2 linked regions of the Homo sapiens genome follow. The protein of the gene in region 1 purifies or fractionates together with the protein of each later gene. This does not show direct contact. Each region holds a gene or a part of one and is shown on either strand. Other genes may lie near its edges.

Region 1 (3,500 bases):
CGACTCAGATTCCAGGCTCCTGACTGGATGCACAGGGCATCTTCTGTTACACTCAGCCTGAAACAGAAGACTGTGGGCATAACCATGTGGGAGCGACCATGGTACATTAATGATCTCTTTACTGCCTGTCATGTTAATGTGACCTTACCTTTCCATATGCTGCTTGATATTCCTTAACAATCAGCTGCCGCTGTGCATTTGACCTCTCAGTCAGAATGCTGATGAGCATTTTCTCATCAGTTCCTAAATGAAACAAAAGTTATTTTACTCAATATTTATGCTCAACATTTGTCTTGAACAAAAGCAAAATGATCAATGGCCTGAGACAAATGCAGAGAGTAAGGCATTTTAATTTCTAGCATCTTATCTGGTTGGAATTTTATTTATTTATTTATTTATTTATTTATTTATTTATTTTGTTTGCCTGAGTTTTGGAAAAAAAAAGTTAACTTTATTTGGATAGTTTTGGGGGGAAGGAAACAATCATTGTCTAAATACTCCTTTCTGTACATCAGACAAAACAACCTACTACTTTTGAACTTGACTTTTTTACCTTTATGAGGTTTGGTTACTGTCTTATTGCCTTTTATCTCTCTCCCATACTTGATATCAAAATATTTCTTCCTCTGGAAAACAGGAACCAACACTTATTGAAAATCTGCCCTGCATGAAACACCCTTTTATTCATTGCCATAGTTAATATTCACAGGGGCCCGCTGTACTAAAGATGAAGACACGAACTTATCTTCCTTGCCAAAGTCACACAACTGCTGAGTGGTCCAGCAAGAAGTTGAACCCAAATCTCTGACCCCAAAACATATATTTCTATCTTTGGTCCACATCTCTCTCATGCATTTCTTCCACATCTCTCTCTCCCTCCCTCCCTCCCTTCCTTCTTTCCTCCCTCTCTCCCTCCTTCCCTCCCTCCCTCCCTCCCTTTCTCTCTCTCTCTCTCTCTCTCTCTCTCTCTCGCTCTCTCTCTCCCCTTCGCCCTTTCTCTCTCTCTCGTTGCCCAGGCTGCAGTGCAATGGCACGATCTCGGCTCACTGCAACCACCACCTCCCGGGTTCAAGCGATTCTCCTGCCTCAGTCTCCCAAGTAGCTGGGATTACAGGCATGTGCAATCATGCCCAGCTAATTTTTTTTTTAATTTAGTAGAGATGGGGTTTCACCATGTTGATCAGGCTGGTCTCGAACTCCTGACCTCAGGTGATCCACCCGCCTCAGCCTTCCAAAGTGCCGGGATTTCAGGGGTAAGCCACCGTACCCGGCCTCTCTCATAAATTTCAAACCCATATACAAAATGAATTGTTTGTAAGCAAAAGGTAACATCAGGCCAGAGCTGATGCTGGCCTGCCTAAGAATGACCTCAAGGTCATTCTTATCTTGGTGACTACAGTAGTAAGAAAAACGTGGAAAGTTGTGTCTAATTAATTTCCCAACCCACGATGATACCTGGTTTGGGAAGCTGTGAATTGGCTTGCAGGCCTAGAGCATGCATGACTAGAGAGGTATAAAAGAGCACCTGGAACTCAATGCTCAACTTCTTTGTGTCAAGGTGACCCTCACAGACCTCATCTACACACTTCCGTGGCAGTGGTACACAGCTTACATCAATGATGAAGCAAAAGCTTCTGTGTACTTGGTTAGCTGCTGGGCCTCCCAATGAAAGATGCTGCCTTTCTGTGTCTTTGGTTTTGTATTCTTACACATAGTTAAATAAATACCGAATCAGATTAAAGTGTATTTGTGCTCTGTGGGTCTGAGCACCAATTTGGTGCTGTGTATTGTACCCAGCATCTGTGTCAGTACACTACCGGCCACCACAACTGCACAAGTATCTGAAACTCAGCACATTCTGGGTGGAATTTATTGTATTTCCTCTCTGACTTGTCTTTCTTTTTATGTTCCCTCATCCACAACTATGGATATAGTCATCCAGGCAAAAACCCTGGGAATCATCTCAGATTCCTTTCTTTATCTTATTCTCTATATTATAGCAATTATCTGCATCTCTTAAATTTGTCGTCTCCTCTGCATGCCCTCTGCTCCTGTGTCCTTATCATATTTTACCTGGATAACCTAAATCACCTCCTAATGTGACTCCCATATAATTATTCCTGTAAACTACTGCCTAAGTAAATGTTTAAAAATACAATCTGATCATGTCACCCCCTTGGCTAAAATTCTAATGGCTCTTTGTAATCTTCAGGATGAAGTTTAAGCCCCTTAGCTCATGTATCAGCTCATTATGATCTCTCCTGCCTTATGTCTTTGTTCTCATTTTCTACCCCCTCTCTGCATCTCTATAACCTATGCACCTAGACTACAACTATACCAAACTACCTGCAGTTATGTGTAGTTTGTATGCCTGGCAGTTTCTCATCTCTTATTTTTAAACATGCCCAAGATCAAAAACTAAGCCAAGATGCCTCAGGTTCAGAGACTGTGTCTGACCCATCCCTAATGCAAACACCGTTATGATACCTCATTCTGAACTCAGAACCTATCAGAAGTGGTGCTCATAAACAATAACCTCCTTCTTAAAGAAGGCCTGTAAGCCAAAGTGCAAATTCATGAAGAAACATAATGTTTAAAAAGAGGTGACAGAATTTAAAGACTATTAACCTCATGAAACAGTCTATTCAACACTAGATATAAATAGGGCAATCAGGCTGGGTGCAGTGACTCACATCTATAATCCCAGGACTTTGGGAGGACAAGGCAGAAGGATTACTTGAGCCCAGGAGTCCAAGACTAGCGTGGGCAACATAGCAAGACCCTGTCACTACAGAAAATTTAAAAATTAGGTACACATTGTGATGAGCATCTGTAGTCCTAGCAACACCAGAGGCTGAGGCCATAGGATCCAGGAGTTTGAGGCTGCAGTGGGCTGTGATCATATCACTGCATTCGAGCCTAGGTGACAGAGCAAGCCCTTCTCTCTTAAAAAAAAAATAAGGAAATCAAGAGATAAATGAAGAAATAACTTACATTGAAAAATGGAAAAAATAAACCTCAAACAGGCAGAAAAAACATAATATTATATTGATATAAAGTTCTAATATAGTATATTTATTGAATTTGACAAGCTGATTTTAAAATTCATAGAGGAGGGCAAAGAGCCAAGAAAGACCTTGCCTGGTAGATATTTAGTGTCATTATAAAATCCTAATAATTGTGACAATGTGGTGTTGGGAGGGCCAAATAGATAAATGAAGCATAACAGAGAAGAGAAAAATAGGGAAGCATAAAACATAGGTGATATTACGTACAAATCAGTGTGAAAAGGAAGAGCTCTTCAATACATTGTTCTGGGACAATTAAATGTCCACATGAAATAGAATAAAATGAGACACCTTTAAATACCATCCATGAACACTAATTCCATGTAGATTTAAGATCATAATACGAAAAATAAAATTTCAAAACTTTGAAAAAAAAAGTAGGAGAATATCTAACTTTATGACTTCGTTATAGAAAAGATTCAATAAGCATAA
Region 2 (3,500 bases), on another chromosome or scaffold:
CCTCTCACCTCCACACTTTTGCACACCTTTCCTTTCTATAATACCCCACATCTGCCCAGGTAGCCTCATGCTTTTCCATCACTTCCTAAAGCCCCAACCGAGATACCTCTCCAAAGCCTGCCCTCCCCAGGCAGTAATGCTCTGAAGTTATCTATTCCTGTCATGTGTAACTCCTCAATGCCCGACAGAGAAGAAAATATGAAAAATAATATACACTAATCCATTAGTGCCTGGAAAAGGCACCCTTAGTGAGGTTTTCAGATATAGTATCCTGTGGGTCGGGAGACATTCTGGGGTAAGGAAGCCCAAATATCACAAATTATGTAATTTTGTAATTCTATTCCTAGAGGTGATTATTGCCAATTACAAGTCAGTCTTTGCTAGCTTCCTAGGAAAAAAAAAGCAAAACTCCAGAGTTAGGAGTGAATGCACTCCTGACCTCTGTGCTGCCTTCTTTAAAAGAAAAAAGAAAGCAGATATAACTGGGAGATGGATAACGTGAGGAATCACCCCTGACATCGCAATGAGGTCATTCTGAAGGACACATCCTTTCCATGTGAACTCGAAGTTCTGCTTAATATTTTTTTCTTCCCTGACCAGACAACACGCAAGACAAGTAACAGATATCTACTCCCAAGTTTGGCATGCTAACGCCAGGATGCAGCTGCCTAAGATTACTCTGTGTTCTTGAGGGTTTTGAGCACAAGTTTAGTGTGGCTGTCGCTCAGAGGGTTGGATTCAGTACTGCCTGTGGATACCAATTGGCCCTGAGGAACCTGCAGATATAAAAGTCCGCCCTCTGTAGACGGGAGTTTTGCATGTATGAATACCGTATTTTCTTTTCTTTCTTTCTTTCTTTTTTTTTTTTTTTGAGGCAAGGCTTCACTCTGTCATCCAGGTTGGAGAGCGGTGGTGCAATCAGGTTCACTACAGCCTTGCCCTCCCAGGCTCAAGCAATCCTCCCATTTAGCCCCCTGAATAGCTGGGACTACAGGTGCATGCATCATGCCCGGCTAATTTTTAAGCTGTTTTATAGAGACAGGGTCTCACTATGTTATCCAGGCTGGTCTCAAACTTCTGAAACTTTTGGGGTCAAGCAATCCTCCCACCTCAGCCTCCCAAAGTTCTGGAATTACAGGGATGAGCTACCGTACCTGGCTGAATACCATATTTTCTATCTGCATTTGGTTATAGATGTGGAACCTGCTGATACGGAGGGCTGATTGTATTTACTGAAAAAAAAATTTACCTATAAGTGGACCCACGCAGTTCAAGCCCATGTTGTTCAAGGGTCAACTGTATATGAAAGTAACAGAGTCAAAGTAGAATTGTAAGGGGAAGGACAAAGACAGACAAGGAATAATACTCCTCAAGTTCTTATTGGTCTTTGTAAGTTTGCTGAGACGAGTCAGAGAGAATGTAACCTATAATTAGCTACATAGCCTTACTCATATTTATTATTCTCTGCAGACATTTTCCTTACGGAATCAGGAAAAGGTTACCCAGAATATTACAGAAAAGAGAACTGGTGGGGTGGGATGAAAAATAAAACATCAGTTGATACAAAGATGCCATTAAACGTACTTTTCTCAGATTTAATCTAATCTATTAAATACTTGTGTCATTTTTCCAGTGCTGCTGGGAACTTATACTATGCTAATAGTGTGCCTTTCAGAGGAAAATGCAAGATTTTTCTCAGTGCTTTTACACCCTATTTCTCATGCTATGGTTCACTTGGGCTTACTAAAAGACTCCTAATTTGACCTTTTTCTTTTCTAATTTAAACCTAGGCAGGGAAAGAAAAGTTCACTGAGTACCTCTTAGGCACCAGATACCCTACTAAGTATTTATCTACATCATTATCTTCATTATACTATTTTACAGATGGAGAAACTAAGGCTCAGTTTAGGTAACTTACCCAAGGCGGCTGTGTCAGTAAAGAGCAGATTGATTATTCAAGTCGGGATCTACTCGCAAATTAAGTATAATTCATGGTCTGATAAAGAGTCTTTCTGGAGCTGGGAGTGGTGGCACACGTCTGTAATCCCAGTACTTTAGGAGGCCAAGGCAGGAGGACTGCTTGAGGCCAGGAATTCAAGACCAGCCTGGGCAACATAGTGAGACCCGTTCTCTACAAATAATCAAAAAATTAGCTGGGCATGGGGCGCATGCCTGTAGTCCCAGCTACTCAGGAGGCTGAGGCACAAGAATCACTTGAACCTGGGAGGCAGAGGGTACAGTGAGCCGAGATGGCATCACTGTGCTCTAGCCTGGGCAACAGACCAAGACCCTGTTTCCAAAAAAAAAAAAAAAGTTTTTTCTGTTGACTGTATCCACCGCCCCCTTAACAAACAATAGATCATATGAGAGCTGCTGAATATTGGAAAATAGGTCAAGCAATCCTATATGATGGCTCATTTCAAAATTTCAGATGCTTTCTATAAGACCATGAAATTTTATCTCTTCTACAGACTCAAAGAAGACAGTTAAATTGAAGGAGAAATAGACCACAGTAATCATGGTTTTCAACTGTCTTCTATTATTTCAGAAGCTGAAAATAATCTACATTAATTTAGAAAATGAAAAGAAGTCTATTGGCTAGGCACAGCGGCTCATGCCTGTAACTCTGGCACTTTTGAGGGCTGAGGTAGGAAAACGGCTTGAGGCTAGTTTGAGACCAGCCTAGGCAACACAACAAGACTCTGTCTCCACAAAAAGTAACAACAAAAATAGCCAGGTGTGGTGACCAGTGCCTGTAGTCCCAGCTACTTGGGAGACTGAGTTAGGAGGTTCACTTGAGCCTGGGAGTTCAGGGCTGCAGTGAGCCATGATCCCCACTACACTCCAGCCTGCCTGACAGAGCAAGACCCCAAAGAAAGAAAAGAAATGGGCCGGTCACAGTGGCTCACGCCTATAATCCCAGCACTTTGGGAGGCCGAGGTTGGCGGATCACAAGCTCAGGAGTTCAAGACCAGCCATTGCCAAAATGGTGAAACCCCATCTCTACTAAAAATACAAAAATTAGCCAGGTGTGGTGGTGGGCGCCTGTAGTCCCAGCTACTCGGGAGGCTGAGGCAGGAGAATCGTTTGAACCCGGGAGGGAGTGGTTGCAGTTAGTCGAGATCATGCCACTACACTCCAGCCTGAGTGACAAGAGCAAGACTCTGTCTCAAAAAAAATAAAAAAGAAAGAAAAAAAAAGAAAAGAAAAGAAAGAAGGAAAAGAAATGGAAGGGAGGGAGGGAGGAAGGGAGGAGATAAGAAAACAAGCAAGCAAGAGGCCAGGTGCGGTGGCTCACGCCTGTAATCCCAGCACTCTGGAAGGCCAAGGTGGGCAGATCACCTAAGGTCAGGAGTTCAAGACCAGCCTGGCCAACATGGTGAAACCCCGTCTCTACTAAAAATACAAAAATTAGCCAGGCGTGGTGATGCACACCTATAATCCCAGCTACTCAGGAGGCTGAGACAGGAGAGTTGATTGAACCCGAGAGGCAAAGGTCG

Evidence for each region. Proteins that work in one complex are often made in the same cells at the same time.
Region 2: the proteins of ANXA3 (region 1) and SNAP23 fractionate together in Homo sapiens (co-fractionation; one large-scale study listed by BioGRID). This does not show direct contact.

What each region holds. Positions count from the first base shown.
Region 1 is NC_000004.12:78,575,770-78,579,269, reverse strand, and holds part of ANXA3 (annexin A3), read right to left. Parts: intron 244-3,500; coding exon 149-243; intron 1-148. UniProt on the Homo sapiens protein: Inhibitor of phospholipase A2, also possesses anti-coagulant properties. Also cleaves the cyclic bond of inositol 1,2-cyclic phosphate to form inositol 1-phosphate.
Region 2 is NC_000015.10:42,505,634-42,509,133, reverse strand, and holds part of SNAP23 (synaptosomal-associated protein 23), read right to left. Parts: intron 1-3,500. UniProt on the Homo sapiens protein: Essential component of the high affinity receptor for the general membrane fusion machinery and an important regulator of transport vesicle docking and fusion.